Linked DNA regions of Homo sapiens. The protein of the gene in region 6 purifies or fractionates together with the protein of the main gene of each other region. This does not show direct contact. Each region holds a gene or a part of one and is shown on either strand. Other genes may lie near its edges. The genes, in order: ARK2N, PDGFB, NIPSNAP1, FAM241A, TMX1, NRP1 and KCTD9.

Region 1 (4,321 bases), on a different chromosome or scaffold from region 6:
GCATTTGTGCATATTGGACTATAAATTTTGTGTAGGTTTCTGTATATCATAGGATGCAGTCACCACTGCTCAGCAGATCCCCATGACATTTTGTTATGAAGCTTATTGGCTCTTTCAAAGGCATTTTTTTTTCTTAAATCTGACAATACTGGTATGTGGGTAATAAATAAAAATAATACTGTAGTCTTGATGTGATTATCATAGTGGAACTCATCTTGTGAAGATATCTGAATGTGCTTACAGTGTCTCAATAAAATATTAATAGAATTTATGCTTAGGAGCCAGTTAATAGTTTTGAGGCTTGGACTATTAGTCAGATGGTCATTCTTATGGTGTGAGTGTAAGTTAAAATTTTAATGGTTAATCTGGGTCCTGTCTTTCCCTTTCACAACAAAATAGCAAGCCTAGTTATTGAGCAGACTATTCAGGGGTTCACTTTAATCAACAGCAGCATCTCAACCCAGGTCCACAGCCCCATCCCATTTAGGATCACATAGGTACGCACTAAAGATAGAGTAGGTTGCCTTTTTCCAAGCAATTAGATGATTATCTTGCATCCAAAATATATATTTAGTTTTAGTTTTAACCTAGGCAAAAGACTTGAACCACATGCAGGGATTAAAAAGTAAGTCGAAATTAGAGAAGCTACTGATCAACAAAAGACCTGAATTTTCCATTTCAATTCTTGCCATGTGTTTGCTTTTTTTAAGTTGATGCTGGAATTGAACACTGTAGTGGGTGATTTTGAACCAGTGGCCACTTAGAAACTGCATGTCCTCAGGTAAATTATATAAAGCCTCAGTTTTCCCTATCTACAAAACTGGGGCACAACCTTTATAGTATCTACTCCAAAAGGTTATTGTTACCACTAAGTGAAATACAGTGTGTTTACTACGGAGGACAGCACATAGTAGGCCCTCAGAAATGCTAACCAGCATTATGTTAATATGCTGAAGTAGACTGAGTAAGGAAGTGATTAGTGGCTCAGTCACTGGATTTCTAATTACTCTCTTGCACTGCAACGAGTTGCTCTTGCTACAAGTACTTCTTAAATTTTGCCAGAGCGTAGAAATTACCCAGTGTGTTTATAAATATTCACACTCCTAGGTTTCTCCTGATGATTCTGTCAATAAATCTGAAATGGTTTCTGGGAATCTCTTTTTAATAATAGCCTCAGGTAACTCTTGTATCCAGCATGTTTAGGAAACTGTATTAATATATCTGAAAATGGCTTCATTTTTGTTGCTAGTAAGGGCTCACTGCAAACAAATGTAGTTGGGGCAAGAAGAAGCAGAAGTCTTGGTGAGGAAGGCTTATAGCTGTGGTAAACTGAACTTATTTAGGATTTTTTTCCCTGGGAAGTTAAAACTTTAAATACCTTATCTTTTCCATCAGCCTTCTTGTCAAGAAGGTAGGTTCTGAGCATTTTCCCCATCCTTACAATAGGGATGGTAATCTTGATTTGTCCCTAACATGGTGGCAGTACAGAGAAATGAATCCTGGGTTTCCTGTTCCTAGTGTAGGGTTTTTAATAATTAGACCAGAATGGCCATGTTTCAGAATCAGTATAGTGAAGGAGATGAAGTATGGTCATGTTCTTCATGTTTATCTGCATCAAATTGATGGTAAGAGTTTAGATTTTTTTTTTTTTTTTTTTTTAAGAGGGAGTCTCCAGTCACCCAGGCTGGAGTACAATGGCACATTCTGGGCTCACTGCAACCTCTGCCTCCCGGGTTCAAGTAATTTTCGTGCCTCAGCCTCACAAGTAGCTGGGATTACAGGTGTGTGCCACTGCGCCTGGCTAATTTTTGTATTTTTAGTAGAGACAGGGTTTACCATGTTGGCCAGACTGGTCTCGAATTCCTGACCTCCAGTGATCCGCCTGTCTTGGCCTCCCGAAGTGCTAAGATTACAGGCATGAGCCACCACACCCAGCCAGATTTTAGATTTTTGAGCTCTTCCTTCACTCTTTTTTGTTGTTGTTGTTGGAGATGGATTCCAGCTCTGTCGCTCAGGCTGGATGCGGTGGCAGTCTCCGCTCATTGCAGCATCTGCCTCCTCGTTCAAGTGATTCTCCTGCCTCAGCCTATCCAGTAGCTGGGATTACAGGTACCCGTCACCACGCCCCGTTAATTTTTTTATATTTTTAGTAGAGATGGGGTTTCACCATGATGGCCAGGCTGGTCTTGCCCTCCTGATCTCAAGTAATCTGCCCACTTCTGCATCTCAAAGTGCTGGAATTTCAGGCGTGAGCTACCATGTCCAGCCCTCTTCCTTCACTTTTTAAGGTTGTTTAACGTGCTGTTTAAGGAACTAAAAGTAGGCTGGGTGCTGTGGCTCACGCCTATAATCCTGGCATTTTGGGAGTCCGAGGTGGGCAGATCACGAGGTCAGGAGTTCGAGACCAGCCTGTCCAATATGGTGAAACCCCATCTATACTAAAAAAAATACAAAAATTAGCTGGGCACGGTGGCGTGGGCTCCTGTAGTCGCAGCTACTTGGGAGGCTGAGGCAGGAGAATTGCTTGATCCCGGCAGGTGGAGGTTGCAGTGAGCCGAGATTGCACCACCTCTCTCCAGCCTGGGTGACAGAGTGAGACTCTGTCTCAATAAAAAAAAAAAAAAAGAAAGAAAAAAAGAACTAAAAGTAGTAATTTGCTGTTTTTAAAGCTAAATGAGTAGTGACTTATTTTTTTATTTTTTTTATGCCTAGCATGCGACTGTCATACAGTATGTAGTATTACTTTCTCTTCAGTGTGTTGCAAAGCTCAGGCCTAGTTCTTACCCAGTGGATTTACAGTTTAAAAAGTAGCTGGATTATTTCCTTTAAAGACAGAAAGAAACTGTTTTCCATGATAATTTAGTTACTACTTTTTCTGTGCTTCTTTTTCTTACCCTATTTTGATAACTACCTTTTCTTGGTAACTTTTTCTTACCCTTTCTTGTTGAAAAGGTCTGTAGTGGGAGGACAAAATTTAGAATTTTCTCATATAGTGAAAGAAGTTATCTTTCCAAAGACCTACACAGGCAGAGACCTACACAGAGACAGCCAGCTGTCACAATAGCTAAATATAAGTGCTCTGCTTTATTTTCAGTTTAATATATGGTAATTGCGGTATTTACATTTTTCTCTACAGGGCTTGTTCTTGTCTTAGAACTGGAAAAGATTACTACCACTGACAGTATTTGAAGAACCTCATAGCATCTTTGGCTCACTTTTCTGTATGCTTTAGGCACTGTTCTGCCATTGGAATCCTGTGAAGTCCTCCATGGGGGGTGAGGCGGGGTGGGGAGGGGCAGAGCAGAAAAGGCCCAAAGGCCAGAGAATGTCAGGTTCTATACTGGAGCTCCCAAAGGAATGTGTGGGATGCTGAAGAGGGTTACAGTGACAGAAAAGGACTAATGGTCCTGGCTCTGAAATAGAAGAAGGAAGAGGCAGAGGCATCCCAGAATGCCTTTGGTGTCTCTTGTAGAGCACGGCATCTCATTGCCTTGGTGTGGGTCCTAGCTGATTTGTTTTCTGTGTGGCACAATTTATCTAAGGCTCTGACAGGAAATTTGGCAAATGTCTCACACTATTAGTCTAGGAGTTGTTAACATTCACGAGGCAGTCTGTATTTAGCACCCCCATCACTTTCTCATGCCTCTTATCTTGCACTAGTATATTGACCAAGCATTACAGATAAGAGCAGACCCTAGGCTAGGCGCGGAGGCTCACACCTGTAATCCCAGCACTTTGGGAGGCCGAGGCGGGTAGATTACCTGAGGTCAGGAGTTCGAGACCAGCCTTACCAACATGGCCAAACCCCGTCTCTACTAAAATACAAAATTAGCCTGGCGTGGTGGTGCATGCCTGTAATCCCACCTACTCAGGAGGCTGAGGTGGGAGAATCGCTTGAACCCGGGAGGTGGAGGTTGCAGTGAGCTGAGATCACATCTTTGCACTCCAGCCTGAGCAACAAGAGCAAAACTCCATTTCAAAAAAAAAAAAAAAAATAGCAGACCCCAATTTAAAGTGACCAGTTTTAGCATATCATCTGGGTTTTGTAACCATGTTAAATACCAGCAGGTTTGGATTGCAATTTTTATGGCAAAAATTGCACTACCAGAATTGTTTGGATTATCTAACAATGTGGAAGGAATATTACTAGTTTCTAGATCCATAATGAATGAATAAAGTTAGAAGAATCTGAAATATTGGTGATGGTACCTTGTTTTTTTTTTAAAAGACAGTATAAAATTAACAAAAGTAGCATAGTAACTTTTCGTTTCATAAAAAATAAAGTGATGACATTTCTAGCTCTGGAATAAGGCTATTGGAG
Region 2 (4,321 bases), on a different chromosome or scaffold from region 6:
TGGCACACACGTGGCGGGGCTGGCGGGCTGGATTGACAATGTATTTATAAACGCTGTCTTCAGAGCAAATTCCATTCTATTCTAACCTCTGGCCTGTTCCCTGGAGCCCTGGTCAGCAGCCCCCCTGCACCCCCAGGTCCCCTTCCCTCTGGGGTTCTGTCTCTTTGTCACTTTGTAATCCTTGCCCAGACGCTATCTACGGGGGAACAGCATTTCCTGCCTTTGTTTCCTCTCCCCGTTGGGCCCCTGGCTCCCTCTCAAAAGCATTCCCGGGCCCTTTCAATCCCGCCTGTGCTGGGGGGCGGTGAGGCAGGCAGGAGGGGGCCCCAGCTGGGCCCACCTATTGTTCGCCAGGGCCCCCACCCGATGTCTCCCACAACCCCCACCCTATGCCCGACTGGCCGCCCCTGGCCACACACAATGGGGCAACTTCCAAATTTAGCCTTTCTACCATTTCTTTCCAAGCCTTTACACCCCCACCCTCAGACGGCCCCTCCACACCCCTGGTGGGGGTCGGGATCTTGGAGATGAGGTTTCAATAGCAGGCCTGTTTCAAGGCAACCATGTGGCTATTTTTTCCTAATCAACTTAACCTTTCCACAAAGCGCATCTTTTCCCCATCTCCTCCCCACCAGGGACATTCCAGAGATGGCAGGGAGAAAGGAAAGGAGCCAGAGGGACAGATAGGCTCGTTGACGTAGGGGCTGTCAGGCTGGACGGAAGCGGACTAGTCATCAGACTCCCTGCAGTACCCGGGACGGACAGGCGGCAGGCGCCTTTGTCTTGGATGGGGCCAGTGGGTCGGTGCCAGAACTGGAGCCATGGGGTGCTGTGTGGAGGTGGCAGGAGCGTGTTCCCAATGCCCCTTAGTTTATTTGTGGCTCCTCACCCATGAGAGAGACAGAAGGGTCTGTCCACGCCTTAACATCCAGCTCAGAGGCCTCCCTCAGCCCTCACTTCCCAGCAGCCAACCTCTGGCCATGGGCTCTGGAAAGGACCGATGTCTCCAAGGAGGGCTGATGGGACTGAGATGGTGCCCAGGCTAGAAAAGGGAGCTGTCATTTGTGACCAGAGGAATCAACAGACGGCTGGGGGCAGAGGTGGGGCAACAGTTTAGAGAAGGGGAGGGAGACAGACACAGATACAGATACGGTGTGAGGGCCCCGGAGCTAGAGAGACCAGGCCCTAGAAGGGTGTGTGGCAGGGACTCCCCACCCCCAGCAGGCCCAACTCCCACCCCTCTTCTCCTCTTCTCTGTCTTCAGCTCCCACCCCCATCCCTCTCCCTCCCTCCCTCCCTCCGTGGCTCCCGCCTGCCCAGCGCGGCCATTGTCCGGGGCTCCAGAGGGGCTGTGTTCAGGGCATGCGGTCCCCCTGGGGCTTCTGGGAATTTCTCCATTCAGCACTTCCTATGGGAACGCTGGGTGGAGGGGCACTGGAAACTGGCCTTCAGTGCCCTAGGTCCCGGCCCCGCCCTGGAGGCCGAGGAGGGTTCACTTACAGTAGCAAAGGGGAAGGGTTATTTTTAACTCCACTGACATGGGTTCTGGCCAAAAATGTTGGCTAAAGAGCCAGGGATGCAGTCAGGATCCTGGGCCTGCAGCTGTCCTGGGGGCTGCTTGGAGGGTCCCTGCTCAGGGCCAGGACCCGTGCATTTATGGGGGCTGGAAGGAGGGACTGTTCTCTGGAGTGGGGGAGAGGCAAACCTCCCGCCTGCCCAGACACCCCGGCGGAGGGAGCCCCTGCCCAAGGTGGGGCCGCCTGGTGTCTGACTGTGACTTCTCCTGCAGAGGAAGATGGGGCCGAGTTGGACCTGAACATGACCCGCTCCCACTCTGGAGGCGAGCTGGAGAGCTTGGCTCGTGGAAGAAGGAGCCTGGGTAAGACTGAGACACCCAACAAGGGTCCTTCAAATTAGCATGGGGGCCAGGGAAAGAGAACGGGGGCGGGCAGCCAGTCGGAGGGCCCCGAGGGTCCTCTTACAACTCCCGTTCCCCCCACATTCAGGACTGAGCGAACTGAGAGAGTAAAACCATCCTTAAATGCCTGTGTTCAGTCATCACAGCCCCTCGCCCCCACACTCTCTGGTTTCTAAATATAGTGCTGCAAAGCTCATTCGTTCCTTATTTCAATCCTGGAGGTAGATATTATTAACCCCATTTCACAGAGTTGGAAACTGGGGCCCAGAGAGGGTAAAGAACTAGGCGAGGTCACACTGCTAGGGAGCGGTAGGGCTGAGATCCCAACCTGCTCCCCTCACTTGAACCCAGCGTGGTCCCTGATGGGCTATGGGTATCTCCTGTGGCAAAGGGCCGCGGCCTAGGCTGGTAGACCTCGAGCAAAGCCTGGAACTTCCTCCTGCTCCCTTGCAGAGACCTAAAGGAGACCGTAGATCATTAGGTCCCAGAGAAACCCTCCCAGGTGAGGCAAATGTCCACTCAAACCCCTCCTCCTCTTTGACACCTGGAGTCCCCAAAACACTGCAGTTAGAGGCTGGGGGAACGATGAATAAGAGTCAGGTGGCCTGGGCCGGGCATGGTGGCTCACGCCTGTAATCCTAGCACTTTGGGAGGCTGAGGCAGGCAGATCACGAGGTCAAGAGATGGAGATCATCCTGACCGACATGGTGAAACCCTGTCTCTATTAAAAATACAAAAATTAGCTGGGCGTGGTGGCAGGTTCCTGTAGTCCATGCTACTTGGGAGGCTGAGGCAGGAGAATTGCTTGAACCAGGGAGGCGGAGGTTGCAGTTAGCCGAGACCACGCCACTGCACTCCAGCCTGGCGACAGAGCAAGACTCCGTCTCAAAAAAAAAGAAAAAAGTCAGGTGGCCTGAGTTCCACCCCCAATCTATGAATGTGGGCGGACGGGATATTCAGCTCTCAGAGCCTCCTGTCCTCTGTACATGGATAGCATCGGTAACCTCAGTGCTTGCTGTAGGCAAGGCTTACTCACTTTACACCTTAGATCCACATGGGAGGGAGGTGCTGTTATTATCCCATTTCATAGAGGAGGAAGCTGAGGCTTTGAAAGCAGCAGTGATGCAGGAATCCAAGGCACCGTGAGACAGCAGTGCACGCGTGGTTTCGAGCTAATATGGTACCTGCATAAAAACCACATGTTGGGCAAGCCCATAAATGTGTAAAATCATAAAGAAGAATAAAATAGTCATGTGCCAGCAGAGGGAAGCGGACATTTACTAAGCATTTACAACATGCCCCACACTCTGAATTTTCTCACTTGAAACTACAGTGGTTCTTGGGTGTAGATCTCATGGTCCCATTTTCAGATGGGGAAACACAGGCTTAGAGTGGCTCAGCCATCTGCCCAAGTCCCATGGCTAATGACAGCCAGGACTTGAAACCTGAACCCTGGGGTTGAAGGGCGTGAGAAAGAGCAGTCCCGGAGGCACCCGCTGAGCTCCCCTGCCAAGTGGGGGGACTCTGGACAGGCCTACGCTCCTGACCCAGGTTTCGTCTCCTCCCAGGTTCCCTGACCATTGCTGAGCCGGCCATGATCGCCGAGTGCAAGACGCGCACCGAGGTGTTCGAGATCTCCCGGCGCCTCATAGACCGCACCAACGCCAACTTCCTGGTGTGGCCGCCCTGTGTGGAGGTGCAGCGCTGCTCCGGCTGCTGCAACAACCGCAACGTGCAGTGCCGCCCCACCCAGGTGCAGCTGCGACCTGTCCAGGTGCGTAGGCTCCGCGGCCCCCCGAGGCTGGTCCCGGTGGTGGGTGGAGACCACCCTTCTGGGGCTCATACCTGACCAGGCTTCCTTGACTGGGCAGAGTGGTGTGTCGAAGGACATTCCTGATTTGTTCCTGGGCTCTGTCCAGAGAGGCCCACTCTTGGGAAGCTCTTCCTAGGCAGGTGGACTGAGGCCGACCATGAGTCCTCTGAGGTGGCTCAGGCCACTGTAGCCAAAAGCCACAGACAGACCCCCCGGGCTGGGCGAGGTGTGGAGCCAACGTGAAGTAGGGATGTCACCTCCTTTACAAGGACAAAATCGCAAAACGTCCCTTGAAGAGCCGTATCCGCAAACATTTATCTGACACTCAGAATGTTTTGGGGAGCTACTCAGGTTCCCCCAAAGCTCTCCCTATTCAGGGCTGTCTTGAGAAAGGCTCAGATGGGTGGCCCTGCATCTTTGACACCTGCTTGTCTCTCTTTGACAAGCTGTGTCTTTAATAAAGAGAGTGCAGAGAGGCCCACCAGGTGATAGACACTGCGGAGCTGGGGCAGGTCCCCTGACAACAGTGGAATGCTGATCCTGCTTTTCTTCGGAGGGACGGGGGATACATACACTGGACTCAGGGAAAA
Region 3 (4,321 bases), on a different chromosome or scaffold from region 6:
CCTTCTGCCCCTCATGGATCTGGGAGAAGGATCCAGCCAGGAGGTGAGGATCTCCTAGAAGGTTGTGACCCCTCCGTTGGTAGAACACCCCGCCATCAGTCCTTTCTCTCAGCATCCCGGAGGACCGTGGGTTCCACCTAGGCCCCTCCTGTGAAGTGTGGCCAAGGAATCAGCCTCAGTACCCTCTGCACCAGCCCTGGCTTCTGCCCCATATTATTGTGCCTTCTCCAGGGCTCGGGCCATCAAGTACCGGCAGGAGAACCAGGAGGCAGTGGGCGGCTTCTTCTCACAGATAGGAGAGCTCTACGTGGTGCACCATCTCTGGGGTAGGTTGAGGACCTTCCAGGAGCCTTTTGTTAGTTCTCTTTCTCTGTCATCACTCTCTGTAGCCAATGGGGTTGTATTAGTGTCCTCATAGAACTTAATGTTCTAGCAGGAGACACTATCTTAGATGTAAAGTCACAAAAAGATCAATTTCAGATTACAAATAATATTTATAGAAAATAGGCAAGGAGTCTGGGAGCGGTGGCTCAAGTGTATAATCACGACACTTTGGGAGGCCGAGGTGGGCAAATCACAAGGTCAAGAGATCGAGACCATCCTGGCCAATATGGTGAAACCCCATCTCTACTAAAAATACAAAAATTAGCTGGGCGTGGTGGCGCATGCCTGTAGTCCCAGATACTCGGGAGGATGAGGCAGGAGAATCAGTTGAACCCGGGAGGTGGAGGTTGCAGTGAGCTGAGATCACGCCATTGCACTCCAGCCTGGCAACAGAGCGAGACTCCGTCTCAAAAAAAAAGAAGAAAAAAAAAAAAGGCAGGGAGAGATGATGGTGAAAAACATAGGGGATCTACATTGGTCTAGGTAGACAAATAATGCCTCTCTGAGGAAGTAAAATGTAAGCTGAGAGCTAAAGGATGAGAAGGAGCCAGCTGTGAATTGCTAGGCAAAAGCATTCCAAGTAGACAGAGCAGCACATGCAAAGGCCCTGTGGTGGGGAAAGGCCTTCGGGGTTTTGAGGTGTGGCAAGGAGGCCAGTGTGGAGTGAGTAGGGAAGAATGTGGGGAGATGGAACAGGAGAGGGGGAATGAGTTGGGATTTATTGTAAATGCAATGAGAGACTATTTGTTTCAAATAGCAGTGACACGACCTGATTTTTGTTCTAGTATGATTTCTCTGGCTGCTGTCTGCTTTGTTAAGAGTGCTTGGTAGGCGAGCAAGAGAGAAAGCAGGGCTTCAGGAAGCCATTACTCTAGTTCAGGCAGGAGGGGATGGGGCAGTGGGATGCTGAGAAGTCCACAGAAGATTTGTTAGTCTAGAGGTGGAACCAACAGGACTTGTGGATGAATTGTCTGTGTGGGGCAAGAGAAGGAGAAGGGCATTCCAGAAGAGCTCCCAGGCTCGTGCTTGAGCTGCTGTGTGTCATCTCCTGAGTCTGGGAGGTCTAGGGAAGGAGCAAGTCAGTGGGGTCAGGAGCGTAATTTTGGCCCTTGGAATTGTTACTTTTTTTTTTTTTCTTTGAGACACAGTCTTGCTCTGTCACCTAGGCTGGAGTGCAGTAGTGTGATCTCAGCTCACTGCAACCTCCGCTTCCCAAGTTCAAGTGATTCTCGTGCCTCACGCTCCTGAGTAGCTGGGATTACAGGCATGCAGTACCATGCCCAACTAATTTTTCTATTTTTAGTACAGAGTTTCGCTATGTTGGCCAGACTGGCCTCGAACTCCTGGCCTCAAGCAGTCCACCAGCCTCGGCCTCCCAAAGTGCTGGGATTATAGGCATGAGCCACCGCACCTAGCCGGAAGTGTTAACACTAAAAATGCTGACACACCAAAGTAGAGATGTCAAGTAGGCAGTAGATGGATATAGGAGTCTGGAGCCCTTGGGAGTGTTTGCGACTAGAAATATAAATGTAGGCAATATTAACATATGTACTGATTGGATGGATGATTAAAGCAGACAGTGTTTGCTAATAGTCTGAGGGAGGCATCTAGGGAGGAGGAGACAGCAGTGCAGGGTTTAGGGGACAGTGGGAAGAGGGCCCTGTGCTGGGTAAGGGATCCAGTCCTCTGTGCCTGAGGAATGAGCCTGTGCCTTTCTCACAGCCTATAAAGACCTGCAGTCTCGGGAGGAGACTCGAAACGCTGCCTGGAGGAAGAGAGGCTGGGATGAAAATGTCTACTATACAGGTGAGTGAAGCCTTTGGAGGTCTTCTGCTGAGAACCCTGTCTGAGGATGGAATCCTCTCTGCAAGGAGATCTAGTCTTTCTTGATTACCTCCAGTGATGGGGAACTCACTTTTAAGACAATGAGTTAATGGGTTTCTATCCAAGTGGCACACTCCATAGGATACCAGCAGGCCTAGGTGAGTACTCTAGGGGATGATAACATAGCCAGGGCCACGCCTCTGCCTAGGAGATGTGGATTAGCAAACGCCCATTGTGACCTTGGGCACGGTTCTTTACCTCGCTGAGGCTGTTCCCTCGTCTGTAAGATAGTGATGGTGATAGTGCTTCTGTCAGAGGGCTATAACGGAAGATTCTACAAACTATTTTATTATTTTATATTTTATTTTATTTTATTTATTTTTGAGACACAGTCTCACTCTGTCACCCAGGGTGGAGTGCAGTGGCATGATCTTGGCTCACTGTAGCCTCCGCCTCCCAGGTTCAAGCCATTCTCCTGCCTCAGCCTCCCGAGTAGCTGGGATTACAGGCGTGTGTCACCATGTCCAGCTAATTTTGTATTTTTAGTAGAGACGGGGTTTTATCATGTTGGCCAAGCTGGTCTCGAACTCCTGACCTCAGGTGATCCGCCTGCCTCGGCCTCCCAAAGTGCTGTGATTACAGGCATGAGCCACCACATCTGGCCCACAAACTCATTTATGAAAAGTGCTTTCTCCAGTGTCTGTCACAAAGGAAGCATGCAGGAAATGTTTTTGAATAAGGTTTTTGTTTTTGTAGAGATGCAGTCTTACTATGTCACCCAGGCAGGTCTCAAACTCCTGGGCTCAAGCAGTCCTCCCACCTCAGCCTTCCAAAGTGCTGGGATCATAGGCATGAGCTACTGTGCCCAGCCTTGAACAAGTTTTTTGCTCAAGGTGTTTGCCACTTTGCTAGGAACCTGAAACCACCTAGAGTCAGTGGGTGTTAATTAAGCCCTCACTGTGTGCCGGGAACTGTGGTAGGTAGGTGGTTGAGGGGCACATAAATGAACAAGAGCCTGTCCTTGCCATTGAGAAGTTTACAGTGATCACTTACCAGGTGGTATGAGGGAGAATGTGTCTGCTGAAGGAGTTAGCAGGAGCCTTGCTATTCAGTGTGGTCCCAGCTGGGTATGGTGGCTCACAACTGAAATCCTAGTACTTTGGGAGGCCAAGGCAAGAGGATCACTTGAGGTCAGTAGTTTAAGACCAGCCTGGGCAACATAGGGAGACCCCATCTCTACAAAACATTTTTTAAAAATTAGCAGGACGTGGTGTTTCCCATCTGTAGTCCCAGCTACTTGGAAGGCTGAGGTGGGAGGATCACTTGATCCCAGGAGTTTGAGGCTGCAGGGAGCCATGATTGTGCCATTGCACTCCAGCCTGGGCAACAGTGAGACCCTATCTCAAAAATAAAAAATAAAAATAATAAAAAACAAGACAAGCACAGTGGCTTACACCTGTAATCCCAGCACTATGAAGTTGAGGTATGTGGATCAATTGAGGCCAGGAGTTGGAGACCAGTCTCGGCAACATGGTGAAACCTCGTCTCTACTAAAAATAAAAAAAATTAGCCAGGCATGGTAACTCAAGCCTGTAATCCCAGCTACTCGGGAGGCTGAGGCACAAGAATCACTTGAACCCAGGAGGCGGAGGTTGCATTGAGCCGAGAACCTGCCACTGCACTCCAGCCTGGAAGACAGAGTGAGACCCTGTCTCAAAAAAAACAAAAAACAAAAAAAATCAAGTGTGGTCCCAACTGACAGTATTGGCATCCCCTGGGAGCTTGTTAAGAATGACAAATCTCGGCTGGGCGCAGTGGCTCACGCCTGTCATCCCAGCACTTTGGGAGGCTGAGGTGGGCAGATCACCTGAGGTCAGGAGTTCAAGACCAGCCTGACCAACATGGAGAAACCCTGTCTCTACTAAAAATACAAAATTAGCCAGGCATAGTGGCACATGCCTGTAATCCCAGCTACTCGGGAGGCTGAGGCAGGAGAATCGCTTGAAACCGGAAGGCAGAGGTTGCAGTGAGCCGAGATAGTGCCATTGCACTCCAGCCTGGGCAACAAGAGTGAAATTCCATCTCAAACAAAGAAACAAACAAGAATAACAAA
Region 4 (4,321 bases), on a different chromosome or scaffold from region 6:
TTGGAGTGAGGTCTGAGATTTTGCATCTCTACAAACTCCTAAGTGATGCTGATGCTGTGCCCATGGACCACATTTTGGCAAGGGAATGGAGAATAAGCAAGTCAATATACTGTATTCACCACACTTGCCCTTCAACATAGTATCAGTAATATATACATATGAAGTTGTTTAACTATTTTCTTAGAAGTGTATATTTAAACTCTTGGTAAAATATGAGAAGCCAATAGTTGTTCCCTAGGCCACGTTATTTGCTGTAGGTCCTACAGCTAACTCATGCTAGAGCAGACTAGAACCCAGGTTTCCGAACACCAAAGCTAGTGTTTTTTGTTTGTTTGTTTGTTTCACAAATACAAAAAGCACATTACATGATGGAAAAACAGTCTGACAAATTTTCTGCCCTACTTTAGATGGTGTAGTTCAAAACTAAATATTAGTTTATACTCACTTCCTTTCACGTATTTTAAAAGCAGTTTGCAAGCAATATTGTAATAAGTGCTATGAGCTTAGTTGAATTCTGCCCTAACTTAATCTCATCTTGTTCCTAAGGACATCCAGTCACTAGAGTAACTCAGGGAATAATTTTGCATTTGATAGGCATCTTTTGTTCATTTTTTTAAATCATCCAGACTGGAACTTCTAAATCAGTGGTTCTCAACTGGGGGCCTTTTGTCCATAGGGGGCATTTGACAATGTCTGGACATTTTTTTATTGCTGAAACTAAGGAGGTGGTACTGACATCTAATAGGAAAAGGCCAGGAATGCTGGTAAACATCGTATAATGCCATAGTCCCCTACAGCGAAGTATTATCTGGCACAAAATTTCAATAGTGCCAAAGTTGAGAAACAATATTCAAAATATGTAAGGGTTACAGTCCTTTGAGTTGTCAAAAGTAATTACTCTGATAATAGATATTCCAATAGATAGGTTAAAATTGTTTATTTGCTTGAAACCTGTATTTTAAACAGAATTTCAAACTTTTCTCTGTGTCTCTTCTAGCAGCTCCTCGTATGCAACTTGCTGTATTTTGCTTTCTCACACATTCCTTTTCTGCCTTTCTTTCCTACCACCCATCTCCTTTCTGTCTCTGTTGAGTCTCGTTCTCTCATGTGTTTTTTCCCTCCCCACGCATCTCAACCACTTTCTCTTCTTCTGCATACATCTTCCCCTACCTCTTCCACTTCAGTGCAGAAGCTGAGCATTATGAAACAATGAAAAGGGGGTTGAAGTATGACAGATCTAATTTTGAATCCCGGTTTTACTCTTTATTAGCCCCCGTGATCCTGATTACTTAATCCGTCAGAGATTCAATTTCCTCATTTGTAATGGGTATGATGCTACCCACCTCTTAAAGTTTTTATGAGGATTCAGTCTCATTTTGTATGTAAAATGCCTAACACATGGAGGCACTCAATAAATATTTGCTCCTTATTTCTCCCTCACCTTTTCTATTTTTCTTCTTTTTCTCTGGTTTTCCTCCCCTTATTTCCCTCAACTAACACATCATAGAACTGTGTTTTTAGTACATGTAATTCTCAAATTTATAGAATATTTATTGAACAAAGTGTTAAGATTGTGAAACAATGTATCTAATGTTTAGAATAGACAATCTCTAAAGAAAAAATTAAACCTGTCAACCTAAATTATGTTGTTTTTTATGTAGATCTCTAGTTGGTTTCTTTTCCCCCTTGTTGCTCACTAATCCTTGAGAGGAAAAATACCCACCTCCTCTGTACAAACTATTCTCAGTTTCCTATTCAAAAGAAGTGATAAGGCAAGATTAAAAGGAAAAACTCAAAGTACCATGACATCAGTCTTGCTGTAACAGAAATATGTAGAAATTCTGTGTCTCTATTCATGTGTTCTTTAAGACTTAGCAACACTGTCTTCATTTTCTGTCTTTTCTGGAGTCATAATCTTATCTTCCAGTAACAGCCACCTATCTCCGAAAACCTTGTTCCTACTAGTTATGTTTTATTTCATTGTGTTTATGTGTGTTTGAGAGAATTAATAAGACATTTGAAATGTAGCTTCTTTTGAGCAGATAAACCGAGTTTCTAACCAACCTGATGCAGAAGATACTTTCTATCTTCTGATCTTTTTCCCCATACCCAGTGTTTCCCCCGGCACCGCCCCCAGCCATTTAACTTCATTGGCAGCTGAGTCTTATCTTGGCATAGGAAGAGGAAGTGATTGGCTTTATTTCTTGCTGTTTTCTTAGGGCAACAACTGCAGCTTATCAGAGTTCTAATCAAAAGGAAAGCATGGTACAAATGTTTTTAACTTTATGGAAAATAAAGGATAAAATTATCATTAATACTTAATATCTAAACATAATGTTAAGAAAGTTAAATTCCCATTGTGGTTTTTACAGTATTTATTTTCATGTAACTTTTTAAATATCTGTGTTTGAGAATTTCTTTTATTTCCTCTTCCAATTAATCCAAAATAATTTAATTTTTGTTTTGTATCCTCTTAATTAAATTTTACTTGAATGTCTGCAGATGGCCTACAGAGGTAGGGAATTTAAGTTTGATGTTGCATGATTGCAAATTCCATCAGTCTGACTGAATTGAGGATTTCTTATTCCATGAGTTTTAGAGGTAATAACAGCAGAAGCGAAATTTTCACTGCCACAAATTGAGAATTGAGAAGGAAAGTCATTTTTCAGGAGAGATATTTGATTTTGACTACTTTTTTCCCCTAAGTTTGATACTTTATTTTTTAAAATTTATTTCTTATTTTTTTATTTTTGAGACAGAGTCCTTTGTTGCCCAAGCAGGAGTGCAATGGTAGGATCTCAGCTCACTGCAACCTCCACTTCCCAGGTTCAAGCAATTCTTGTGCCTCAGGCTACCGAGTTCCTGGGACTACAGGTGCATACTACCATGCCTGGCTAATTTTTGTATTTTTAGTAGAGATGGAGTTTTGCCGTGTTGCCCAGGCTGGTTATGAACTTCTGGCCTCAAGCAATTTCCCTGCCTTGGCCTTCCGAAGTGCTGGGATTACAGGCATGAGCCACCGTGCCCAGCCTGGCTACTTTTAATGGATAAGTTTACCCATCTTGTAGTAGCATCTAGCATATTGTCCTGCATATGCAAGGTACTAAGTAATGTCACCAGAGATTTCATATTTTTTTTTAAAAAAGTAGATTCTTGAAAAAGTATAAAATGTAGAAATGTCTTAACCTGCAGTTTGAAATCAGAAAGAGGCTTGAGCAGGGTGTGGTGGGTCATGCCTGTAATCCCAGCACTTTGGGAGGCTGAGGTGGGCGGGTCACCTGAGGCCAGGAGTTCGAGACCAGCCTGGCCAACATGGCGAAACCCCGCCTCTCCAAAAAGATACAAAAATCAGCCGGGTATGGTGGGGAATACCTGTAATCCCAGCTACTCAGGAGGCTGAGGTAGAAGAATCGCTTGAACCCAGGAGGCAGAGGTTGCAGTGAGCCAAGATCGCAAACTGCACTCCAGCCTGGGCGACAGAGCAAAACTCCGTCTGCGCCCACCACCCTCCCCCGCCACAAAAAAAGAGGCTTGAGTTAGGCATATTCTTGAGTTCGTGGCCCACAGTTATATATCATTAGTTCATGAAAAGCCCTTCTCTTATTTAATTATTTTTCCATTGCATAACCATTTCTTTCTCTACAATAGGCAGCTGTTCCAATACGTCTGTTAGATATTACTGAAATTGAGTGTATCTTTTTGACTACCTGGTGGTTTCATTTGTGTGTCTGCAATTATGACTTATAATTTTAAAAATATTGAAGCCCGGTAGTTAAAATGAAAAATGAATGCAAATTTTGGTATTTTTCTGTTTATAATCATTTCAAAGACTAAGTTCTAGTTGATATTCTCATTGTTTTTATCCATCCCCTCAAAAAAATCTTTTTTCTTTTATTGGGTCTATGTAGTTTAGTGGGAGGTAAGTATAAAACAATGCTATAATTTTTCATTTACTGATAAGTGACAAACAAGTTATAATGATAAGTTATAAATTATATAATATAATATAATGCTATTATTAGATGAAGCCTTATATAGGTAGTACATTTTTACATTTAATTTATATCATTTTTTAACGTTTTGTAGGAAATGAAAACTGCAACTTCATGTAGAGTCCAATAAATAGAAAAATATGTCCAGCCTCACTATAAAGAAAAGAAATGCAAATTAAAACAATTAGGAATGATTTTTTACCTATCAAGTTGTCAAAGATTAAAAAGATGAATGGTGTGGGTTTAGAGATATAGTGTATAAAATACTATATTTGGCTATATGAGATATAGTGTATAAAATACACTAAAAATTAGAGGTATAAGTTAGT
Region 5 (4,321 bases), on a different chromosome or scaffold from region 6:
AGGAAGGCTGCAAAGCTCACTAAATAGTCACTGAAATGAGAGGAAGGGAAGCACCATACCAGATGCCTCCAGTGATTTAAAGCAGGGTGTCTGAGGTGATGCTATTATAGCCAAAAGTACTAGAAAAATGCCTTAAAATTTTAAGTTATAGCTTAACAGCTAATAATTACTATGTGCCAAGCACTATTCTAATAATTTTTATATAATTCTTTTAATATGTGTATTACACATAAGGCTTAAAAGTACTTTCCTGAGATTTATCTACTTACTGTATTTCATAGTTTCATTACTTGGAAGAATAACAGTAATTACATTTTAAGGCTTATGATTTAAAAAAATGTAACCTCATTGTTAAATTGGGGGCTAAAATGTCATGAGTAGGTAAATAGTATAATTTGCTATTAATACTTGTACATTGCTAATGCTTTTGAATGTTAGAATTGACTGTAAAGTGAAGTGAAAAAATAGCAAAATAAATATTAAATTATTTCTCAGTGCTGGATAATATTTAATTCTGATTCTCTTTAGTTGTAAAGATGGTGAATTTAGGCGCTATCAGGGTCCAAGGACTAAGAAGGACTTCATAAACTTTATAAGTGATAAAGAGTGGAAGAGTATTGAGCCCGTTTCATCATGGTTTGGTCCAGGTTCTGTTCTGTAAGTATGAGGGCTTTTTCTCTTACCCATTTCATAATTAATTGGAACAGATAATTATATTTTATGTAAAGCATTCATACTCAGTTTGTTTCTTGAGCTGTTAAGGTATATCCACATTTATTACATGTTTGATTTTTTTTTTTTTTTTTTTTTTGAGATGGAGTCTTGCTCTGTCGCCCAGGCTGGAGTGCAGTGGCGCAATCTCGGCTCACTGCAAGCTCTGCCTCCTGGGTTCACGCCATTCTCCTGCCTCAGCCTCCCGAGTAGCTGGGACTACAGGTGCCCACCGCCACACGTGGCTAATTTTTTTGTATTTTTAGTAGAGACGGGGTTTCACTGTGTTAGCCAGGATGGTCTTGATCTCCTGACCTCGTGATTTGCCCACCTCGGCCTCCCAGAGTGCTGGGATTACAGGTGTGAGCCACTATGCACGGCCTACATGTTTGATCTTTTTAGTTTGACCTTCTAAGTCAAACATATTTTCATGCTTCTTGAGTTAGAGAAGGCATTTTATAGAAGTAAGTTGTACACCTTTTCAGGAATATTTTAGCTTGCTAGATTTGGTCATATGTATCATCAAAAACTAAATGCCCCTAAGAGTCTTCACAGTGTAATGGGTAAAGCTATCACTCGAGTGTAATAATTTGAATGAGTAGGCTCAAACTTGTACTCATGCTACCTCCAGACTTCAATTTGTCTTTTAATGTTCTGTCTCCATAGAGACCGTCAATAATTGCCGATACCAACTAAATTAATTACATAAACTTCAACTCTTGATGTCAAGCGACTGAATTATGTTTGGTTGGTTATTCCACCTGTCTGATAACTTCTTATATGAATAGTGTGTATAAACGGTGACCGTAATAGTGTGCCTAAGCACTGAGCTTTATAGATATCTAGAGGGTAGATGAATTTCCTCGTAGCAACTGGCTATGGAGTGATAAGGATTGGAAGTAGCAAGCATGCTTTCTGCTTTGCTGTTGGAGTACAAGGCCTCACTGGTCATGTGAGAGACCTCTGGGAACAGTGAGTTTTGCTGAGGTCACCATGGACTGATCCTGTGTGGCCATCTGTCTCTTCCTGTCCTCTCACCACACTTACCTTTGGAGGATAGGGAGTTGGGACAGTAATCACATAAGAGAAAAATGCTCTAGATTCTGGGGATGGGAGAAAGATTAGCCCTGTTAACACTCACCCATTGAACTACCATGCCCAACTCAATTTTGGATCCTACTGTTTCTGAAATAAATTACTGCAGACTACAGTGAGGCTATACAGTGCTTTATGTTTCAGTTCCTTGTTTCTCTTCTCACTTGGCTTTTAAACAACAGAAGCAACATGATTAAAATACCTTTCTGTGTCGAACTAAAAGTATAACTGATTTTTGTTCTCTGAAATCTCATCTCATAAATGAATCTTGTCCTTCCAGTAGAAGAAAGTAGTTGCTTGTAAGTCTATTTTCAAGCAGCTACAATTGGGAACTCACAGACCTTTCTTATTTCTGAAACATGCCTTTTTAAAACTGGCCATTTAATTATGTAAAATACTAATTTTTGCTTATATGATGACTTAGCATTTATTTCCTATGTAATAATTTTGTATATCATTAAAAGATGTCAAACTAATGCTCTTGTAAATTTTAATTAATTTCAATAAAAAAGAGGGATAGTTCTTAAATGGAAAGAATTGGCTTGACAATTGTTTCCAGTCCTTACTTTAGCCTCCCTTTGGTCTTGCTTTGAAGGCTTTTAAGGGTGAGTAAGAGTTGCCTTTTCCAACTGGTTTCATGGAACTTGTAACCCTTTACTCAGTGTATTGGAGAAATCATCAGATGAAATACAAAATATTAACATCAAAACAGTGGGAGAAAAGGAAAAAAATACTGTCAAGTATTTTTATTTATGAGGCTGTCACATGGTAGTGTCAATTTAGAAACAGTTTTCATGAAGAAGGCTTATTACAGGCATGAAATCAGTGATGTGTCACTAGTCTTGATTAACAGCAATAAAATCTGTCATATTGGGGAAATTATAGAGTAGAAAATAGTATGTATAGACAAATCTGTGTATGTTACTCAGTTTTTTAATCATCTCTTTTATTTTTAGGATGAGTAGTATGTCAGCACTCTTTCAGCTATCTATGTGGATCAGGGTATGGACTAAAATATTTTTATCTTAAACATTTTTACCACTATCACTTTAACAAAAATGAACAGATTTTTAGTTTTTTTTTTTCTTTTGATTTTAGACTTGCCATAACTACTTTATTGAAGACCTTGGATTGCCAGTGTGGGGATCATATACTGTTTTTGCTTTAGCAACTCTGTTTTCCGGACTGTTATTAGGACTCGTAAGTATTTCATTTTTGGAGTGCTAGGAAGAAAGATATTTAAAAATGTGATTATTTAAAATAGTTACATTAGCTGTGGCATATATTCTACATTCAGATTTCTTACAATGTTTATTTTTACAGTGTATGATATTTGTGGCAGATTGCCTTTGTCCTTCAAAAAGGCGCAGACCACAGCCGTACCCATACCCTTCAAGTAAGTATATTTTAAAATGTTTATTTTTTATTCACGATAGTCCTATTCATTTCTGTAATCACAATCACACATTTCACAGGTTGCTCTTCCAGCTTAGAATTCTAACTGTGGATTGTTGGTCTTTATCAGCTATGGCATAAAGGAAGGTAGAGGAGATGTATATTTCATATAAGAATGTAGCCCAGTGGATTTTGGAACATTGTTATTTTCTTGACTCTTATATTATGGGGAATTTTAACATTGCATATAGCATGTAGCTATTTAATAATATTTATTTGGTGTCGTTTTATAAGTGGAGTATATTCTACTCTTGAAGTCTTTCATTAGTATACCGGCCGCCACATTTGAAGATTATTCTTTGAATGCCAGCCAACTGTAAGTTTTTTCTGGTAGGATATTGGGAAAAGCAATCCCTATAGTTGATTTAGGATGCCACTGACACTGAACTGTACTACAGAACAATTTAAATAATTACAAGCATTTACCAATCTTGTAATTGTACTGTTAATGGAAGCATTTATATTTGCAGTTCTTAAAGAACTTTTACTTATCTGTTACCTCGTTTGCTCTTCAGCACCTCTGTAGTAGAGTGCATAGGTGTTACTGCTCCCATTTTGTACTTGAGGAGACTAAGGTTCACAGTCACACAGAAGTGACAAAGCTGATTTTAACTAAATCAGACTTGTGGCCTGATATTCCTTCATTTATTATGTCTTTTGTTTGTTTGTTTGTTTGTTTGTTTTTGAGACGGAGTCTCGCTCTGTTGCCCAGGCTGGAGTGCAGTGGCGCGATCTTGGCTCACTGCAACCTCTGCCTTCCGGGTTCATGCTATTCTCCTGCCTTGCCCTGCCGAGTAGCTGGGACTACAGGTGCCCACCACCACGCCCGGCTAATTTTTTGTGTTTTTAGTAGAGACGGGGTTTCACTGTGTTAGCCAGGATGGTCTCGATCTCCTGACCTCGTGATCCGCCAGCCTCGGCCTCCCAAAGTGCTGGGATTACAGGCGTGAGCCACTGCGCCCAGCCATGATGTCTTTCTTAACTTAGCTTATTGAGATCAAAATTTCCGAAATGAAGTCTATGGAGATTGAATTTATAGTGTACCTTGTCCTTTCATACT
Region 6 (4,321 bases):
GCATGGCTTTGCAGATTCTCTTTGATTCCGAGGCTGTGTTACTGGGAGGGTTTCTAATGTCTGTGAATTTAGGGCGGGTAGGAATTACTACAGGCGTTCACATGTGCTATTATTTTCTAGAATTAACAATGTCTCTTTCCCTAGTAGCGAGAAGCATAGGGCAAATCATAGTAATGCCCCTTGAAGTTGGCCACTGATTGGCCTCCTTGAAAACAGCAAATTGGGCAAGGATCTATGAATTAGCATTCATCTTATCCTTTTTTTTTTTTTTTTTTTTTTTGAAATGGAGTCTCACACTGTTGCCCGGGCTGGAATGCAGTGGCACTAGCTCCACTCACTGCAACCTCCGCCTCCTGGCTTCACACGATTCTCTTGCCTCAGCCTCCCAAGTACCTGGGATTACAGGCATACACCACCACACCCAGCTAATTTTTTGTATTTTTAGTAGAGACGGGATTTCACCACATTGGCCGGGCTGGTCTCGAACTCCTGACCTTGTGATCCACCCACCTCAGCTTCCCAAAGTGCTGGGATTATAGGTGTGAGGCACCGCAACTAGCCTCATCTTATACTTTTTCTGAACTTCTTATTTTGGGCAATTTCAAACATATTCACAAATGGAAAAGAAATAGTAGAATGAATTCTCTATGTGCACGACCCTGCTTCAACAATTATCAGATCATAGGAAACTTAATTTATGTCTGTCATCCCTGACTCTGAATTATTTTCAAACAAGTCCAAGCATATATTATGTCCCCTCGTTTATTTTACAACTAAAGAAACAATTCACAATGCTTGCTCTCTCCCGACCCTTGAAGGGGAGGTGGGGAAAGACGGTGTGGAATTCTTATTCACTGGGGAAAGATTGAAAGTGTAGTGTATTTCCTTTGAGCAGGTAGAAACCTCACCATGCCCTAGATCACAACCCTCCCACCACCTCCTGCCTTACTTTCTTCCTAAGATTAATTGGTGGGGGAGGAATGGGTTGGGGGACAGAAAAAGCTGGCAGCTTCTCCAGTGAACTCTATTATCTGCCCCCTTCCTGCTACCCACCTAGTCATTTCACTGCCCAACTTGAAGTACAGTATAAAGGACCAGCAGACTGGACGTGGTGGCTCACACCTGTAATCCCAGCACTTTGGGAGGCCAGAACAGGAGAATCAGTTGAGTTAGAGAGTTAGAGACCAGCCTGGGCAACATAGCAAGATACTGACACTACAAAATAAATTTTTTTTTTAAAATCAGCCAGGCATAAGGGCGCACACTTGTAGTCCCAGCTACTCAGAGTCTGTTTTAGGATCCTTTGAGCCTAGGAGTTCAAGGCTGCAGTGACCTATGATCACACCATTGCACTCCAGCCTGGGTGACAGAATTAGAACCTGTCTCTAAAGAGAAAAAAATAAAAATTAAAAATAAAGAAATAACCAGCCATGTCTGGCCCAACACACATGCACACACACACACATACACACACACACATATACACACTCACAACAAACGCCCAATCCATGAACTTCTGCACCCACTCAGAAATACTTACAGAGCACTGCTTGCTCAAGTAGTGGCTTCCCAAAAGGTACCCCAGGGGGGCATTTGCTGATGCTAGGAAATCTCATTAAATTCTCCCCATCTTGGCTCTTTGGGTGAGTGAGTCAGTGGACTGAAGGCTGGGCCAAGGGTACTTCATGCCTTTCCCATTTTGTGGTTCACTTTTCTCCCAGTGAATATAACCATTAAATAGGTTGAATAGGCCTCCTTCCACCACAGCCACCTCCTTGCCTAATGAGAATGACAAGGAAATTGGATAAAATTGGACTCCTTCAAATCTGAGACACTTTCAATTGAATCTTAAGACAGGCAGTTTTAGAAAACTTAAAATACTTTGACTGTAAATGGCACTGTACATATAAATGGCATCAAATTAACTAAATGCAATTAGCCAAAATGAAGGCAGTAATGGTGGAAAAATTGATGCAAAGTGAAGCAAAATGGCTCAGTAGGATCTGACATTCAAAGGAGGTTAAAAGCTATGTTAGCCAGAGACAAAAGCTAAAAGGCTTGCAGAAGTAAAGTGCTAATTGAGAAAATGAAGACAGAGTTCCTGACCCAGAACTGTGATAAAACCCTTGAAAGGGAAAATATCAGTGCTTTATGTGTTAGAGTATCAGAGAAGGAGAGCTTGTCGTAGATTAACAGCTGAGAAGTGCGATTCCTTCAGAAGGGTTTGACTCTTTTGTTCTCTCAGCCACCCAGATTTACTTGGCAGTTGTGCCAGGTCAGCTCCGACTAGAAAGAGCCCCTGCAGTTCTAGAAACACAATCATTTGTGTAGAGAGATGGGTGAGCCCGACATCTGAAAGGCAGGAACTACTTGTTAACGGGAAAAAGATCCAGATGAAAAGAGCCCTTCACGAAGCTCCCGCGCATAGACTGACATTAGAGAGTAGATGGTGCTTTTTTTATAATATTATTTGGTGAAACTTTGCAAGCCAGACATTGGGTTGTTTAAAAAGAAAATGAACACTAGCTAGGTAAAATATCCTGCTGCTTATCGAAAGGCATCCCATTTGCTTGGTTTTCTGCATTTGACCTCAAAGAATGGAACTAGGTACCTCCTTTCAGAGGATTCCTGAAGTCTGGCATCTCTCCCTGGTTCAGTGAACAAGTGGTATTTGAGAAGCTCTGTTACAGGGCAGATGCTGACTTGGGCACTGGAAATACACGTGTAAAGGAAGAGGTCCCTACGCTTGAGGAACTCGCAGTCTGATCATGGTTGGGAAGCAACCACAGTGCAGTTCAGTGAGGGCTTCCAATGGCAGAGGCCAGTGACAATGGACCATGTAAAAGATGACGGAAGAGGGGTCAAGGAAAGCAGCCCTGTCTCAGACACCGGCTGAGCTAGGCTTATTTTACTGGCTCATGTTTGGTGTGCTTTGCACAGGTTTTTGTATGGGAAGCAGTTAGATAGAGGCAGAGTGTGCATGACTTTGGGAACTACCTCCTTGCCTAATGAGATTGACAAGGAAATTGATGAAATTGGATTCCTTCCATTTTCACTGAGTAGAGCAGAAGTTTGTGGATCGGGTGTTTATTGTGAGTGAGTGTGTGTGTGTGTGTGTTTGGCAGGACACTGCTGGTTCTTTATACTATACCTTAAGTTGGTGATGCAGTGACCAGGAGGAAAACAGGATGGGGGTGGATAAAAGGTCCATTGGAGGGGCTGCCAGCGCTCCCTCTTTGTGAAGAAGTGTGGATAGGCTGCAGGCAGTGAGCAGCCTCTGAAGAATTCTAAGCAGAGGAGCAACACGAGCAGTTTTAATTTATATATATATATATATATATATATATTTAAGACAGGGTCTCTGTTGCCTAGGTTGGAGTGCAGTGGTGTGATCTTGGCTCACTGCATCCTCCACCTCCCAGGTTCAAGCGATTCTCCTGTCTCAGCCTCCTAAGTAGCTGTAGTCCCAGCTACTTAGGACTACAGCTATGTAGGAGCTACTACAGATGCCCGCCACCACGCCCGGCTAATTTTTGTATTTTTGGTAGAGACATGGTTTTGTCATGTTGGCCAGGCTGGTCTCGGACTCCTGACCTCAGGTGATTCAGCCACCTCGGCTTCCCAAAGTGCTGGGATTACAGGCGTGGACCACCGCGCCCGGCCACACGAGCATATTTAAAGACCACAGTGTGAGAAGGCAGGGACCATAAGAACTTCCTCAGGCAGAGGATTCTTGAAATCTGGCATCTCTCCTACTGCACTGAACAGGCATCATTTGAGAAGCCCTGTTACATGGCAGGTGCTGTGTTGGGCACTGGAAATACAGGTATGAAGGAGGGGGTCTCTGTGCTTGAGGAACTTACTGTCTAGTTGTGGATGGGAAGTGATTATGGTGCAGTTGAGTGAGGATGTCCTATGGGAGAGCATCCCTCTACCTACGTCCACTTCTCTCCTTCTTTCTAACACCCATTCTCTGACTAGCCTCAATAAACTTTGAGCAATGAGCTCAATAAGTGGGATTAAGACATGGCAGCAGCATTGCCAATTTCAGTCTTTTTTCCGTAAGATTGAGGGGACAGAGGCACGATGGGTGTATTTTTTTCCCATCGTGGTGGATTCATCACAGTGAAATGGCACCATCCCACAGACAAGTAATCACATCTTGATAAATTAGTGGGCAAAACAAATCCTAAGTGTGAATGGATCAGCTCAGTCACAGAGGACACCTGCAAGGTCAGAGAGCGAGAGGGACATTCATCCTGCAGTATCAAACCTACTGCTAGAGCTGCCATTTGTGAACACCCTTCCTTTATGATTCCAC
Region 7 (4,321 bases), on a different chromosome or scaffold from region 6:
AAATTGTAACCTGTATTATTTAAATTTAAAAATTAAAACCTGCACATGCATGTAAAATATTTTTTTCTTTTATACCCACAAGATTTATTACATAATACACAATAAATACACAAGTATTTGTGTATTTGAATTCAACTTTTATTGCCACTTTAATCAATCCTAATAAAGTATCAAAAACAATTTACCATATCACTAAATATTTTCTAATCTGGCTGTCTGCCTGGATCCTAAAGGTCCAATAAAAAAATTAATTTGCAAAAAGTTGTTATGATAAATACACAAGTATTTATTGTGCATTATGTAATATACAATACACATAAATTGTTGAATTTATGCAGGCTGATTTACCCAACAAAACCACTAATCACCACTAGTAACTAAATACAGAACTCAATTTTCTCTACCTATACTTTTAGTCAAATACATTTTAAATATTTACATGATCTTATTCTTTAAAAGATGAGATAATTTAAAAAAAAGATGAGATAATTAACTCTAAGGTGAAAAAAGAAAATTTTAAAATGGAAAATACTGGTAATATCAAGTGTTGGAGTGGATGTGGACCAATAGGGAAGATTTATGCAATGGTGGTGGGAATATAAATTACTGCAATGACTTTGAAAAACAATCTGGCATTATTTTGCAAAACTGAATATTTACATATTCTAACACCCAATAATTACAACTATGTGTCTATACCTTAGAGTGGTGGTTCTCAAATGTGTGATCCTGTCACCTGCAGCATCTGAACCACATTTCACCTGCAAATTAAAAATGTACATTCCTACCCCACCCCAGACCTACTGAATATTAATCTTTGGGGATGAAGTCCAGCAGTTTTCTCAAGTCCTCCTCCTCCTCCAAGTGACTCTGATGCATGCTAAAGTTTGATTAACTACCTCCCTAGAAAAATGCTTGCTGCTGTGTGCCAGGATACATATACAGAAATATTCATGACAGCACTGTCAATTTAACAACAAAATATAAAGAAAATAAACAACCTAATGTCCACTGACAGGAATATCATGGTAGTATTTGTATAACATGTACTTTAATAAAGCAGTAAAAATGAATAAATTATCACTATGTCAGATATTATGGTTGGAAGAGAATTATATTGAACGAAAAAAGCAAGGACTGGCCTGGCATGATGGCTCATGCCTGTAGTCGCAGCACCTTGGGAGACTGAGGAAGGAGGACTGCTTGAGGCCAGGAGTTTGAGACCAGTCTGGGCAATATAGGAAGACATTGTCTCCACAAAAAACTATATACAGTATAATATCAATTTGAGATACCGTATGTCCCGAAGCTGATTTTTTAAAAATGTAACTTAGTGGCTAGGCAGAGTGGCTCACGCCTGTAATCCCAGTACTTTGGGCGGCTGAGGCGGGCAGATCAGGAGGTCAGCCGAGACCAGCCTGACCAACATGGTGAAACCCCATCTCTACTAAAAATACAAAAATTAGCTGGGAGTGGTGGCACGTGCCTGTAATTCCAGCTACTCAGGAGGCTGAGGCAGGAGAATCGCTTGAACCCAGGAGGCAGAGGTTGCAGTGAGCCAAGATCGCGCCACTGCACTCTAGCCTGGGTGACAGTGCGAGACTCTGTCTCAAAAAAAAAAAGGTGAGGGCCGGGCACGGTGGCTCAAGCCTGTAATTCCAGCACTTTGGGAGGCTGAGGCTGGCGGATCACGAAGTCAGGAGTTTGAGACCAGCCTGGCCAATATGGTGAAACCCTGTCTCTACTAAAAACACAAAAATAGCCAGGTATGGTGGCGGGCGCCTGTAATCCCACCTACTTGGGAGGCTGAGGCAGGAGAATTGCTTGAACCCGGGAGGCGGAGGTTGTATTGAGCCAGAGATCATGCCACTGCACTCCAACCTGGGCGACAGAGTGAGACTCCGACTCAAAAAAAAAAAAAAAAGGTAATTTAGTTATGCATATATATGTGACAAAACTATTTAAAAACACACGGCAAAGAGAAAAACAAAACAGGAGTACAGGAACGTGGATAAACACATTATGTTATTGATAACATGCTACTTCTTGGGTTATCTGGCAGATTTACAGATGTTTGCTATATTATGTTCCTCTTTTTATGTATATTCTTTATTGTATTCTTTTCTATGTATCAAATATATTAAGAAATGTTCAAGCTTAAAAAGTGGGCCCTCACTAGGTTCTTATTAATGTTTAGCCTTCAGAGGCAGAGGTTCAGATAAATTTTCACCTTTCTCCAACTCTAACAACGTAATGGATTCAAACCTGGATACTTACTACTAACAACATATTTCTTTTTCATTCTTTGTTGTTGTTGTTGTTTTAGAGATGGGATCTCACTATGTTGCCCAGGCTGGTCTTGAACTCCTGAACTCAAGCAATCCTCCCATCTCAGCCTCTCAAAGTGCTGGGATTACAGGCATGAGCCATTGTGCCTGCCCCCAACATGTTTCTGACCTAATACCAAAACCTGAAGAAAAGTTATTTCTTGGACCAAGAATGAAAACACGGTACAGAATGAAAGTATTTCCTACCCTGTTTGCCATGTTTGGCATGATGCCACATACTCAGAAGGCATTTACTAAGTGTTCACTGAATGAATGAATGAATGAATGATGAATTAATCAGTATACAAAAGGCCTAGGACTTGCACAGCTCATTATTGAATATTCTGAAGTAAAAAAAGCACTCTGTGTTCAAGACGTATAGAAACTCTGCACTGACATTAAGTTGCTCAGAAGCCACACACTGCATGCAGATGTGCAAGTCCCCATTTCAATTTCCTTAATGCCAACTCTTACAGGGAATATTAAAAAGAATAACGAAAATGTTGAGGCACATGGAAAAAGGATGACAGGTACAAACAACATAACTGACTCTTTCGGAGCAGTTTTAAAAAACAAAAACAAAAAAAACCCTCAAAATTTAAACCAAAGATTCCAGTGATTAGAACTAAGGCCTTCAAATGTTTCTGACCACACACCCCATTGGTAACATACTTTTGGGCATGTACTCAAACATCTGTATATTTATGTATTTATGAACTACATTCCACTGTTAGAAAGTACATGTTTTCCCAAATGATGAGGACTTTCAGTGACTCAGACTATGAATTAGCCACTAAGAATCTCCTAAATATTTATCATTAAATTTAGTGAAATTCTGCCAAATACAGGATTGACTTTAAACATTAAAATAAGCCGGGCATGGTGGCTCACGCCTGTAATCCTAGCACTTTGGGAAGCCAAGGCAGGTGGATCACATGAGGTCAAGAGTTCAGGATCAGCCTGGCCAACATGGTGAAAACCGTCTCTACTAAAAATACAAAAATTAGCAGGGCATGGTGGCAAGCCCCTGTAATCCCAGCTAAGCAAGAGGCTGAGTTAGGAGAATCGCTTGAACCTGGGGGGCAGAGGTTGCAGTGAGCTGAGATCACGCCACTTCACTCCAGCCTGGGTGGAAGAGCAAAACTCCGTCTCAAAAAATAATAATAATAAATAATAAATAAATAAATAAAAGTAAAAAACAAACAAAAACCAAAAAATCAGAAAAGAAAAAAATCTGAAGCCATTTGTCTTCATGCACTAGAACTTATTTCTAAATATCTTGCTAACTAGGATGACTCATCCTATCAATGGCTAATATTTCAAAGAATAACATACACTTAGGGAGAGGCTGATTATTAATAGCAATTAATAAATAGGACTTCAAATATTCTTCTTTAAAACTCAGCACTGTTTCAACTTCTCAGGTCCAAAGAGACCCACTCTTTTTTTAGTCTCATGGTTTATACATACTAGGAGAAGTGGCAGCTTCTGCCATTTCCTCATTGTTTACTTGTGCTTGCATAATTAATATTGTCTCAAGCTGCAGTTTCTTTGAAGTAATCCTTTAAGATCACTTGGCATTTTGGTGAGGGTTAATTTGGTTAAAACTAGATATAAATCTTAATGTGCCGGTTGTAAGCTTCCATATCACAATGTCAATGACAACCAATCTGTGAAGAAGACACTATTAACCTTTTCACATGTGAAGGCCGTCCCTTCTTACAGGAGACCTGAGACCAGCTGAATGTTCAGTGACTGGAGGCACCTGTGTCTTTCTAGATCGGAAAAATCAAGTTTTCACATTATTTTATATTTTTAAGTGTAAGATATAAACAAAAGGTATATTTCTTCCTGACCTCCAATAAATCGTCTTGGACACTGTCTGTGGTGTGTCATCTCACTCCAGAAACCACAGTTTAGAGAATGCATAGCCCTCTCTCCAACGTCAAATACGTCCACCACTAGTTACATTCATTCAATACACAGACAATTCC

What was found.
Region 1: the proteins of NRP1 (region 6) and ARK2N purify together in Homo sapiens (affinity purification with mass spectrometry; 2 studies listed by BioGRID and IntAct, with this or other methods). This does not show direct contact.
Region 2: the proteins of NRP1 (region 6) and PDGFB purify together in Homo sapiens (affinity purification with western blotting, with the first as the bait; 2 studies listed by BioGRID). This does not show direct contact.
Region 3: the proteins of NRP1 (region 6) and NIPSNAP1 purify together in Homo sapiens (affinity purification with mass spectrometry, with the first as the bait; one large-scale study listed by BioGRID). This does not show direct contact.
Region 4: the proteins of NRP1 (region 6) and FAM241A purify together in Homo sapiens (affinity purification with mass spectrometry; 3 studies listed by BioGRID and IntAct, with this or other methods). This does not show direct contact.
Region 5: the proteins of NRP1 (region 6) and TMX1 purify together in Homo sapiens (affinity purification with mass spectrometry; 3 studies listed by BioGRID and IntAct, with this or other methods). This does not show direct contact.
Region 7: the proteins of NRP1 (region 6) and KCTD9 purify together in Homo sapiens (co-immunoprecipitation; 3 studies listed by BioGRID and IntAct, with this or other methods). This does not show direct contact.

Annotation. Positions count from the first base shown.
Region 1 is NC_000018.10:46,242,964-46,247,284, forward strand, and holds part of ARK2N (protein ARK2N), read left to right. Parts: intron 1-4,321. UniProt on the Homo sapiens protein: AMPK substrate important for exercise capacity and skeletal muscle function.
Region 2 is NC_000022.11:39,230,993-39,235,313, reverse strand, and holds part of PDGFB (platelet-derived growth factor subunit B isoform 1 preproprotein), read left to right. Parts: intron 1-1,789; coding exon 1,790-1,879; intron 1,880-3,486; coding exon 3,487-3,692; intron 3,693-4,321. UniProt on the Homo sapiens protein: Growth factor that plays an essential role in the regulation of embryonic development, cell proliferation, cell migration, survival and chemotaxis. Potent mitogen for cells of mesenchymal origin.
Region 3 is NC_000022.11:29,556,739-29,561,059, reverse strand, and holds part of NIPSNAP1 (protein NipSnap homolog 1), read left to right. Parts: intron 1-231; coding exon 232-326; intron 327-2,106; coding exon 2,107-2,190; intron 2,191-4,321.
Region 4 is NC_000004.12:112,151,537-112,155,857, forward strand, and holds part of FAM241A (uncharacterized protein FAM241A), read left to right. Parts: intron 1-4,321.
Region 5 is NC_000014.9:51,246,564-51,250,884, forward strand, and holds part of TMX1 (thioredoxin-related transmembrane protein 1 precursor), read left to right. Parts: intron 1-528; coding exon 529-657; intron 658-2,762; coding exon 2,763-2,808; intron 2,809-2,904; coding exon 2,905-3,006; intron 3,007-3,129; coding exon 3,130-3,202; intron 3,203-4,321. UniProt on the Homo sapiens protein: Thiredoxin domain-containing protein that participates in various redox reactions through the reversible oxidation of its active center dithiol to a disulfide and catalyze dithiol-disulfide exchange reactions.
Region 6 is NC_000010.11:33,187,937-33,192,257, reverse strand, and holds part of NRP1 (neuropilin-1 isoform a precursor), read left to right. Parts: intron 1-4,321. UniProt on the Homo sapiens protein: Cell-surface receptor involved in the development of the cardiovascular system, in angiogenesis, in the formation of certain neuronal circuits and in organogenesis outside the nervous system. Mediates the chemorepulsant activity of semaphorins.
Region 7 is NC_000008.11:25,451,746-25,456,066, forward strand, and holds part of KCTD9 (BTB/POZ domain-containing protein KCTD9), read right to left. Parts: intron 1,831-4,321; exon of another isoform or gene 1,799-1,830; intron 1-1,798. UniProt on the Homo sapiens protein: Substrate-specific adapter of a BCR (BTB-CUL3-RBX1) E3 ubiquitin-protein ligase complex, which mediates the ubiquitination of target proteins, leading to their degradation by the proteasome.